Linked DNA regions of Homo sapiens. The protein of the gene in region 2 purifies or fractionates together with the protein of the main gene of each other region. This does not show direct contact. Each region holds a gene or a part of one and is shown on either strand. Other genes may lie near its edges. The genes, in order: UBR1, MRM1 and ZER1.

Region 1 (3,746 bases), on a different chromosome or scaffold from region 2:
CAATTCTTGTGCCTCAGCCTCCCAAGTAGCTGGAATTACAGGTGTGTTCCACCACACCTGGCTGATTTTTGTATTTTTAGTAGAGACAGGGTTTTGCCATATGGCCAGGCTGGTCTCGAACTCCTGACCTCAAGTGATCCATCTGCCTTGGCCTCCCAAAGTGGTGGGATTACAGGCGTGAGCCACTACGCCCAGCCCGGATAAGATCTTTGAGGAGGAAAATGTGTGCATATATATACACACACACAGAGGAAAAGAGAGTGAGACAGAGATGATGAGAAAGAGAGAACAGGAATGATTGAAACGGGTGGAAAATGGAAGAATGAGGTAAGAACGTGGAAACAATAGGCAAGCACGTAGGAGGTGAGAGTAGTGTGATGGCATGGGGTATTATTTTGAGAGGGTGGTTTATTGGGTCCATGATAATGAGGACTGAGAAAAATTGGGAATCAAGAGACTTGTGAGGTAGTCTGCCAGAACTTCTGCCTTCTGTCTTCCTCGACTAGATTTTCTTCCTTAAGTCAATTTCAGAAGATACCTCTTGGCATGATACTCAGCTCTTTTCTATTGCCTGTTTATAACCTCTACCTAGGGGATTTCATCTAGTTCTGTGACTTTAAATACCATTTGTATGTATTCAGTTCCCAAATTTATATCTCTGTGTCATCTCACTTCTGAACTCCAGAATCATAAATCCAACTGCCTACTTGACATCTTCACTTGGATGTCTGGTGTTTCAAACAGTGGGAGCAATTAAGAAGTTGCTGCTGTAACCCAAGCCATAGTTGATGGTAGCTTGCACTGGAAAGGTTATCCTTGGAGATAGAGTGAAGAGGATGAATGTGAGAAAGATTTTAGAAGGATGGAAGAAGCAAAAAGACTTGCTGATAGATTAGGCATGAGGCAAAAGGTAAGGAATAGATGATATCTGCATCCTCAGTTTTTGGTTTAAGCATTCATGGCAGCGGTTGTGTTGTTTCCAGCGGTATGATCTCGGCTCATTGCAACCTCTTTGTCCCAAGTTCAAGTGATTCTCTTGCCTCAGCCTCCCGAGTAGCTGGAATTACAGGCATGCACCACCATGCCTGGCTTTTTTTTTTTTTTTTTTTTTTTTTGTGAGCCAAGGTCTCTCTCTGTCGCCAAGGCTGGAGTGCGTGGCGAGATCTCGGCTCACTGAAACCTCTACCTCCCGGGTTCAAGCGATTCTCCTGCCTCAACCTTCCAAGTAGCTGGGATTACAGGTGCCTGCCACCACGCCTGGTTAATTTTTGTATTTTTAGTAAAGAGAGGGGTTTCACCATGTTGGCCAGGTTGGTCTTGAACTCCTGACCTCAGGCAAGCCGCCCACCTCAGCCTCCCAAATTGCTGGGATTATAGGCATGAGCCACCGTGCCCAGCCAGTTTTTTTGTATTTTTAGTAGAGGTGGGGTTTCACCATATTGGCCAGCCTGGTCTCGAACTCCCGACCTCAAGTGATCCACCCACCTCGGCCTCCCCAGTTGCTGGGATTACAGATGTGAGCCATCGCACCTGGCCTTGGTTGTGTCATATATTGAGAGGAAAGACAAGATTTTAGGAGAGGAAAGGAGAAAGGCAGATCAAGAGTTTTGTTGTCCCTGTCTCAGTAGACAGCACCTCCATCATAGCTCTTGAAGACAAATAATTCTGTCTCCACCCATGTAGTCCAAGTCACTCTCTGTTGTCTTGGCTACTGCAGTGACTTCCTAACTGGTCTGTTTGCTTCCACTGTTGCCCTCTTCCTGTCCATTCTGCACAGAACAACCAGAGTAATCTTTTAAAGATTAAATGAGATCATGTCAGTCTCCTACCTAAATCCTCAGTGGCTTTCTCTTATACTTATAAACTCATTACAAGCCTTCAAGACTTTGCCTGGTCCAGCCCCTGCATCTCCACCTCATTTCCTGTTACATTCTCCTCACTCATCCTGGCCTGTTAGTACAAGCCCAAGCTGTATTTTGCTTTAGGGTCTGTGCTGTTGCTTGCTGTTTGCTTTTCCTAGAGTGTTCTTCCTCTGCTTTTTCTTAATACACACTCTGTCTAAAAGATGGGTTCCTCTTATTCTCTGTCAAAGCAACCTGTTTATTTCTCCCATTTCAATTATTACAATCTGTAATTACTGTATTGTCTTTATTTACTTAGCAAAATGTCTGTTTCTTCCTCCAGAGGGAGAGGTAAGTTCCATGAAGGGAAGGATCATGTGTGACTTGTTCATTGATGCATCTTTTTTTTTGAGACGGAGTCTCGCTCTGTCGCCAGGCTGGAGTGCGTGGTGCGATCTCGGCTCACTGCAACCTCCGCCTCCCGGATTCAAGCGATTCTCCTGCCTCAGCCTCCTGAGTAGCTGGGACTACAGGGGCATGCCACCATGCCCAGCTAATTTTTGTGTTTTTAGTAGAGACGGGGTTTCACCATGTTGGCCAGGATGGTCTCGATCTCTTGACCTCATGATCCATCTGCCTCAGCCTCCCAAACTGCTGGGATTACAGGTATGAGCCACCATGCCTGGCCACATTGATGTATCTTGGTATGTGATTGATACAGAAGACACTTAAATATTTTTAAATGAATGAATAACTGAGGATCAACATTAATGATTTATTGTAGTAAGATTAGTAGTGATTGGTGGATGGAGGTTGTAGATAGAAAAAAGGGAATGAGCCGGCATGTTAGGGTAGTGGCTAACCTTCGAGTCCAGGCTGAACAGGGAGGTAATAAAAGCCAAAACAGGAAATCTGGAGGGAATTGGTGGGATTGAGGTGTTAAAGGGCATGAGGTTGACATAAGTGGGAGGACTGAACTTTGTGGTCAGAAAGGGGCATTTTAGAATTTGAGTACATGGGGGCACATCAAGTTTTTGTGATGGTAGAGCCAGGTTAAAGGCACCTCTTGGCCTGGTGCAGTGGCTCATGCCTGTAATCCCAGCACTTTGGGAGGCCGAGGTGGGTTTATTATGAGGTCAGGAGATCGAGACCGTCCTGGCTAACATGGTGAAACCCCTTCTCAACTAAAAATACAAAAAATTAGCCGGGCATGATGGCGGGCGCCTGTAGTCCCAGCTACTCAGGAGGCTGAGGCAGGAGAATGGCGTGAACCTGGGAGGCGGAGCTTGCAGTGAGCTGAGATCACACCACTGCACTCCAGTCTGGGCGACAGAGTGAGACTCCGTCTAAAAAAAAAAAAAAGAGGCACCTCTTGTGTGTTCCTATAGCACCCTTTCTATACTCCTGTTTTATGGTTTTATGTAGCGTGTCTCAGACTGTACTCTACGTTACCTGTTTACTATGTGTCTTTCCTTCTAGACAGTGAAGTTCTTGAAGGCCTGAACTGTTGCTTGTTCACAGCTGTATCTAGTTTCTAGCACATTGCTTCAAAGTTTTTATTGAATGTATGAATGAATGAATGAATGAGAAGACACTGAGGTAGAGAGGAAGTGGGGGTAATAGAAGCTGAGAATGTTAAGAGATATTAACATTATTGAGATATAATTTACATACAATAAAATGTACCCATTTAAGGCGTTTCTTGGATAAATTTTAACAAATGTATATACTTGTGTGACTACCACCAAATCAGGTTATAGAATATTTCTGTTATTTCCCAAAGTTGTCTCCTGCTGAAATGGGAGGATTTTTTAAAAGTTTAATATTGTTATGGTTACGCAATAATCATTATGGAAATCAAAGAAAAATGTACCCATAATCTCATATCTGTAGGGGAACTTTTTT
Region 2 (3,746 bases):
CAGAGCAATACTGCCTCCTTGTGTCCAGCAAGGGAAGCACAGCTGAAGACAAACGGATGGGAGAGGGGTTTCCAAGGTTTGTCTCTTGCTAGATACTAATGGCATAAAGATCTTCTTGTTCAAACATCCTTTCAAGCTGTGCCCTATTCGAGGAACTCAGGTCTCCTGTACGCAGCTCCCCACAGCTGAACAAAATGCATTTACTGAAGCCCGACCTAGTAGGCAAATAGACACTGAGGCTGACTTACAGAAGAGGCAAAGTGGTGCATACCTGGGGAAGGGGTGCAGGAAAGGGTATAACGCTAGGAAGAATTCAGCTAATGCTCCATTTGCCGTTTTAAAAACTCCAGGACCCTTCCATCCCCAGAGGGATTTAGAAGGCCAAAGGAAGCGGTGCCAACATGCCCCTTTCTCTCCCTCGCCAGGGGCTAGCTTCGTCCCCTTGAAGAGGCTGAGCTGGGCTCACATCTGTTCCTTCCCCTCTTGCCCCTCATTACCTGTAAAAATCCGGTGAGGTCATCAGTGGAGAACACGTCCATCACCTCCATAGCCCCCGCGCTGGACTTGCTGACTACTGGAGTGAGCGGGCAGCTGCAAGGTTTCCCCGTTCCCCGCATTAGGCTGGGCCATCTCAAGCCCGGCTCCCTACCCTCCCAGGGCTCCCAAGGGCTAGGGGGATGAGAGTTCTGGGACAGGTAAGTCTGGCTAAGGGATCACCCAAGGGCCAAGGTGCTTAGGAACTCGGCTGCGTCTCCAAGTTGGGGCACATAGAGAATGAGGGACGTCCGTGCCTGTTTCTCCGGCTGGTGATGACCTTATCCACTCCGAGGAAGTGTGCGGAACGCAGCACAGCCCCAAAATTCCGGGGATCCTGGATCCCATCGAGGACGAGCCACAACTGCTGGGGGTCGTCGCCTGGGCTCGCCTCCCCGGCCTCTCTCCAAGGCCGGGGCCGCAGCGGGCTCACCTCCATGCAGACACCCTGGTGGACCTGGTAGCGGCACATTGTGTCCAGTTTCTGCCGTCTGGGCCGCAGAACTGGAATGTCCCGCGCCTCGGCCATCCGGAGCAGCTCGGCCCGCTTCCCCTGCAGCCCAGCTTTACCCGCCTGGAGCAGGAGCCGGGCCACAGAGCGGCGGGCGGCCTGCAGAGCCAGGAGACACGGGGTCATGCCAAACAGAAGCTCCAGCCGAGAGGTCGGCACCAGGTCATCCAGCAGCAAGCGGCTTAGCTCCTCCCCACCAGGCCGCTCCCCATGCCGCGCTGCATGGGAGAAATGACGGGTGACGAGGCGACCCCAGGTCGCGCCCCGGACGGTCGAGAGCAATGCCATGGCGCAGCTCCCGCCAGGGACTCGATGCCCCTTGCTGCGTCCCCGGGAGCGGTAACCCGCGCCGCAGTTCGCTCCCAGGCTCCCAACACCGAGGTGAAGGGTACTCGACAGCCGTCTCCGCCGAGCTCTCTCGGACAGGAACAAACAGCCCCGATTACCCACAACTGGACTACCGAGCTACGACCACCCGCTCCCAGGCTCCCACGTGGGTCCCTCGCTTCCGGGTTCGGGAGCCCGCCCCTCCCCGGCCCCTTCCTGACGGTGTTTTGCGCATGCGTGGCTGCCAGGCTGTCCCCCACAGCGCCTCCCTCAAGGCTAGAGGAGCGGCGAGCTGAGCTGGCCGTACTACCGGCTGCGTCCTGTGTTCCTCGAGGTCCCAGGAGGCCGGGGACCGCATTCACCCACGCACCAGTGAAGGGCCCTTTAAGGAGATGGGTTGGCCTTCCTGGTCAACCAATTCAGTCTTGTTGCCTCCCTCCCCACATCCCGGCGCTGGTGATTTTTCCCAGAACTTCTCACTAGCCCATCACCAGCCAGCAGGACCCCAACAGTCACTTCCTATCCCGGGCCGCTGATTCTCTTCCTAAGTGACTCTGAGCCTGTCGTGTTCCTGCTGACAAGCTCACTAACGCCCCCGTCCCACAGGTAATGGCGAGACTCTTGCGCAGCACTCAGCCCCCCAGCGATCCAGGAAGGCAGGAAGGAGCTGCCTCTTCAGCCCCATCTGGCTCCTTGCTCCTGTGCTTAAGTTCTGAGCTGTTCGCACAGCACTGCATGCTCTTCCAGACCTCTCAGCCTTGCACACCTGTCTTCGCTTTGTCAAACTCCTACATGTTTTCAAGGCCCAAACAAACCCATTCCTGCTACCTAAGGTAATCCATACTCCCATGAGTGAGGCCCCCAATCCACCCACCTGGGACCTACCTGGAAGAAATTCTGAGACACAAGCACCCCTGATCACAGAGAAGGGGAAAGAATGGAAAGACACTCCTGAAGCCAAGGCAGATTGGTTGCGATTTTTCTTTTTTAATGATCACCATGAAATCCACTGGGCCAGGCCCTGGTGTTCTGCTGCCATAGTCAGAGTCAGAGTGGAGGGATGACCCCAGGAGGGGACAAGAAGCCAAGACTGGGCTGGGGAGCCGAGAAGGAGATAGATAAGGGGGAGAGGGTGCAGTGGGGCAGGCAGAGGAGGAAGTCTGGAGCCCTGGATAACAACACAGATATAAGGTGAAGGCCTCCCTCTGCCACCCCAGCCCTGAGCCACAGACGTTGAGGTGCAAGAAGATGGGGATTTTGGCCACAACTCCTTTCCCATGTCAAAGGGAAGACACTGAGAGCAGACAAAGGCCAAGTGCCCAGGGGCACAAGAACAAGTTAACAAGTAAAACAATTAGGGACACCACCTCCTTTCCCCAGCCCATTTTTCACATTTACAACTGAAGCAATTTGACAAGATGATATAAAAATCTCAAACAAATTTTCTAGCCCCTGGTCGGGGTGTGGACAGGAAGTGGTATCCCGTGATCCAGAAATCAACACCTAAAATCCAGAGGCAGGAGGCAAGCCATGAAGGGTGGGGAGGGAAGGAGGAGCTCCCACAGTCACTAGGTCACCTGCTCCGTGGGCCTCATCTGGATGTCTCCAATCTGTGGAAGGTACAAGGCATGAGGCAGCTGTGACACTCTCCCCTGGCCCTGCAGGGCTCCCTGCTCCCCTCCTCTGGGGCTGGTTGGGTTCCTCCAGTGAGTAGACAGTCAGGGCCAGACTCACCTGGATGTGTGCGGGGGTGCTGAGGACGTAGATAACAGCCTCGGCCACATCCTCGGGTTTGAGACACTGAGAGCACCAGGGGAATGGGTTGAGACAAGGACAGAATGGACTCAAATTCCCTCCCACCACTGAGCTTCTCTGTGGCATCCACACATCCACCCCAACCCTCCAGGAGGAGCCACAAAGGCTGGAAGAGTGGAGTCTGAAGGCCGAGCTTCCCTCTGCCTTCATTTAGGGAGTCAGTGGCTTCACCAGGCTCAGAGGGAGGCCCCACCTTCATTTGCTCATAGGTGGCAGCTGCCTTCTCAGGGTCCTTGTCGTGGAGTTTGAAGGCGAATTGTGTCTCCACCACACCTGGAGAGATGCACTGGGCCAACAGAGAGGGCCTTCTCAGGGGCTGAGCTTTGCCAGGTCTTGGGGAGGTCGAGGGGAGAGGATGGAGGCCACAGAACCCCAGCTTCACAGTGATGGCTGCCTGATATCCGGCAGCGGCCTCCTCCCTCCGAAGCTGCCACTGGCAGTGACCACAATGATACCTACCATCTACAGAGCCTTTCCTATATGTCAGGTAAACGTTTTACAAAAAAGTGTCCCTGAAAAGCTCATCATCTCCTTTTCACAAGTGAGAAGGCCGAGGCTT
Region 3 (3,746 bases), on a different chromosome or scaffold from region 2:
TTTAATAGAACAAAGGTTTGCTGTGGCTGGAATTCCCTTACTCTAGTACTGCAAGATAGAGATTATTACCCCATTTTCTGATGAAGATACTGACGCATACACAACTAAGCAGAAGCTTGCCTGAGATCACAAAACTGATGAGAGTGGGATGCAAACCTAAAGCAGACCCCCGCTTCTCACCAAATATTTGGTCTTCAGTCCATCCATCCAAACAATGGGAGGGAAAGAGAAACTGAAGTCTGGAGGTGGGAGCATGGGATCCCACCAGTGTCCTGATACCCAGAGGACAGAGAGGTTGGGGGAGCCAGAAGCTCTGAGCCTTGGAGCAGTACTCACCCTGTGAAATATTAACCTAGGAGCTGGGGGGAAAACCCAAACAAATGCCCTATTTACAGAGGCTAGACGCTTTCCAGGAGGCAGCAGATCAAGGGCCAGAGACTGGGGGTGTGAGGGGAGTCACAGCAAGTGTGGGGATCTCCAGGTGGTCGGGAAACAGGTGAAAACCAGACGCCACCTGGCTCTGAAAAGTCTGCAGAGATTAAATCTATGAGTTGGGTTATGTCAGAAAGATGCAGACACACAATAATTGGGGAGTGTGCCTCACAGCTAGGTGGCTGCTCATGATGCTGGAGACAGAGAGGCCTTGAGGAGGCTGCATTCGGCTAGTAATCAGACTGGTTGGGTTCTATTCTTGTAACCAAATGTATTAATGATCCTACCCATACTGAATACCAAGTATATACCAAGAATTCTGGCTGGGCGTGGAGGCTCACGCCTCTAATCCCAGCACTTTGGGAGGCCAAGGCGGGCGGATCACGAGGTGAAGAGATTGAGACCATCCTGGCCAACATGGTGAAACCCTGTCTCTACTAAAAATACAAAAATTAGCAGGGCGTGGTGGCGGGCGCCTATAGTCCCAGCTACTCAGGAGGCTGAGACAGGAGAATTGCTTGAACCCGGGAGGTGGAGGTTCCAGTGAGCCAAGATTGCACCACTGTACTCCAGCCTGGCAACAGAGCAAGATTCCATCTCAAAAAAAAAAAAAAAAAAAGAACTCTGTTAAGTATTTTATATGTGTTAATTAATTGAATTCTCTCAACACCCAACAAGGCAGGAGTTACCATCTACAACTTACAGAAAAGGCAGCTGGAAGGAAGGGGCTATGGCTATGCAATTTGCCAGAGACTATGGATCTGAACAGACAGATATGTACACAGGTAGTTCATTAGTTCAAGACGCAGTGTGTCAGGCTGGGCACAGTGGCCTACGCCTGTAATCCCAGCACTTTGGGAGGCCAAGGCAGGTGGATCACCTGAGGTCAGGAGTTCGAGCCCAGCCTGGCCAACATGGTGAAACTCCATCTCTATTAAAAATACAAAAATTAGCCAGGCATGGTGGCGGATGCCTGTAATCCCAGCTACTTAGGAGGCTGAAGCAGGAGAATCGCTTGAACCTAGGAGGCAGAGGTTGCAGTGAGCCGAGATTGCACCACTGCACTCCTGCCTGGGTGACAGAGCAAGATTCCGTCTCAAAAAAAAAAAAAAAAAAAAAAAGACCCAGTGTGTCCAGCTTTCCAAGCAGTTCGCATCAAAGTCACAGATAACTTATTTATTTATTTATTTATTTTTCTTTCTTTTTTTTTTTGAGATGGAATTTTGCTCTTGTTGCCCAAGCTGGAGTGCAATGGCACAATCTCGGCTCACTGCAGCCTCTGCCTCCTGGGTTCAGGCAATTCTCCTGCCTCAGCCAACCAAGTAGCTGGGATTACAGGTGCCCGCCACCATGCCAGGCTAATTTTTGTATTTTTAGTAGAGACAGGGTTTTGCCATGTTGGCCAGGCTGGTCTCGAACTCCTGACCTCAGGTGATCCACCTGCCTCGGCCTCCCAAAGTGCTGGGATTACAGGTGTGAGCCACTGCGGTCGGCCTATTTATTTATTTTTCTTTTAAGAGACAGGGTCTCACTCTGTCACCCAGGCTGGAGTGCAGTGGTACGATCTCAGCTCGCTGCAACCTCCACCTCTCACGTTCAAGCAATCTCCCACCTCAGCCTCTGGAGTAGCTGTGACTACAGACGTATACCAACAGACCTGGCTAATTTTTTTATTTTTTGTAGCGATGAGGGCTCACCATGTTGCCCAGGCTTGTCTCAAACTCCTGGGCTCAAGCAATACGCCCACCTCAGCCTCCCAAAGTGCTGGATTACAGGTGTGAGCCACCGCACCCAGCTGCCACAGATAACATTTTATCAATATGATAATACATTATCATTTTGTTTCCCAGATAAGGAAACAATGGTTGAAAGATGAGCAATGAGTTGTTCCTCCGGTAAGTGTGTGACCCTAAAGTTCGAGCCCCTTGCCATTATGCTATGGGGAGGGACCATTTCTCCAACCTCAGCTTTCCCTTCTGTTCCACGAGCCTCCGCCGCTTCCTTACAACTCAGGCACTGAGCTCACATGATCCAGTACTGCTGGTAACCACTCCGTGGCATGTCATTTTTTGGCCACAGCATTGAAAGCTTCCTGAGGGCAGGGACCCTATGTGATTTCTGGGGTCTCCATTACAGAGTATGTGAGTGGCTCAATGCCAGTGACAGGGCCTCGGCTCCACAAGATCCCCAGCCAATGTTTTCCAGCCTCAATATTTATCAAGGTCCTTACCTGTCAGCATGTTGCGAGTGGCACACGCTGTGTTGCGCGTGTTGTGAACAGGGTTGCTGAGGAGATGCCATGAAAGGATGGCAGGAAGGTGGTAACCAATAATTATGAAGAGTGATGTTCCTGAGAATAATGCTTCAAGAGACCCTTCTGCATCTCTGAAGCTGGAAAATCAGTTTCAGCGATTGCGCCAGATATAAGACAGTGGTCCACAAATAGATAACCAGACAGGGGTCTCTGCACTCACCTCTCAGGACTCCAGAACAGATGAGGTACTGAAGCCAAGCAAAAAAACCAGAGTGCCAAGAGCAGTCTTCCAGCTAGTGGGCCCCCAAAACGTGTCTGCATAATCCTAGTGGTACTAATGATAATACCTTTGTAGAGAGCTTCAGAACACACCTAATTCTTTCACAAGCTGTGTCTCATTTCATCCTCCCAACAGCCTTTAGAGTTAGTCGGAGGCAAGGGAAGGCCATTATTCTTAATCTACAAATAGGAAAACTGAGGCCCAGAGAGGAGATGGAACCTGCCTAACTCACACAGCAAGCCAACAGCAGAGCCGGGATTTGAACCAGGTCCGCAGGTCACCAGCCTGGGGTTCTACCCACAACAGCCTACCCCAACATGCTGGCTCTCAGCTCCTAAGTGCTCTGACCTTTCATTTTCAAATTCTCTGGCCCAGTTGCCCTGCTCAGCCTGTGTCCCAGGCCTGAGGATATAGTCCGGGCTTGGGGTATAAGGAGGGAGATCAACTGTGGTTCTGCTTCCTATAAAGCAGGCTGGAAAGTCTCAGCCTCTGCCGGGCACTTCCGGATCACCAGCCTCTACCCGTAGATCAGCCACGCACACTCCAACCACATATCTAGGCCCAGCATACACTGCCCCTCCCCACCTGTCTCCAAGTCACATTCATTTCAACACCCTCATTTTGCCTATTTTACGTGGTAGAATGGAAATTTGCTGGGCTCATTTTAATTCTTTTTTTTTTAGAGATAGGGTTTCCCTATGTTCTCCAGACTGGTCTCAAACTCCTGGCCTCAAGCGATCCTCCCAAAGCGCTGGCAGTGCTGGGCTCTTTTTTAAAAGT

The links.
Region 1: the proteins of MRM1 (region 2) and UBR1 purify together in Homo sapiens (affinity purification with mass spectrometry; 4 studies listed by BioGRID and IntAct, with this or other methods). This does not show direct contact.
Region 3: the proteins of MRM1 (region 2) and ZER1 purify together in Homo sapiens (affinity purification with mass spectrometry; 4 studies listed by BioGRID and IntAct, with this or other methods). This does not show direct contact.

What each region holds. Positions count from the first base shown.
Region 1 is NC_000015.10:43,099,338-43,103,083, reverse strand, and holds part of UBR1 (E3 ubiquitin-protein ligase UBR1), read left to right. Parts: intron 1-3,746. UniProt on the Homo sapiens protein: E3 ubiquitin-protein ligase which is a component of the N-end rule pathway. Recognizes and binds proteins bearing specific N-terminal residues that are destabilizing according to the N-end rule, leading to their ubiquitination and subsequent degradation.
Region 2 is NC_000017.11:36,599,398-36,603,143, reverse strand, and holds the start of MRM1 (rRNA methyltransferase 1, mitochondrial precursor), read right to left. Parts: upstream 1,562-3,746; 5' UTR 1,334-1,561; coding exon 792-1,333; intron 592-791; coding exon 498-591; intron 216-497; coding exon of another isoform or gene 201-215; exon of another isoform or gene 1-200. Other genes in the region: DHRS11 (dehydrogenase/reductase SDR family member 11 precursor), read right to left, coding at 2,941-2,982, 3,107-3,172, 3,381-3,473. UniProt on the Homo sapiens protein: S-adenosyl-L-methionine-dependent 2'-O-ribose methyltransferase that catalyzes the formation of 2'-O-methylguanosine at position 1145 (Gm1145) in the 16S mitochondrial large subunit ribosomal RNA (mtLSU rRNA), a universally conserved modification in the peptidyl transferase domain of the mtLSU rRNA.
Region 3 is NC_000009.12:128,765,316-128,769,061, forward strand, and holds part of ZER1 (protein zer-1 homolog), read right to left. Parts: intron 1-3,746. UniProt on the Homo sapiens protein: Serves as substrate adapter subunit in the E3 ubiquitin ligase complex ZYG11B-CUL2-Elongin BC. Acts to target substrates bearing N-terminal degrons for proteasomal degradation with the first four residues of substrates being the key recognition elements.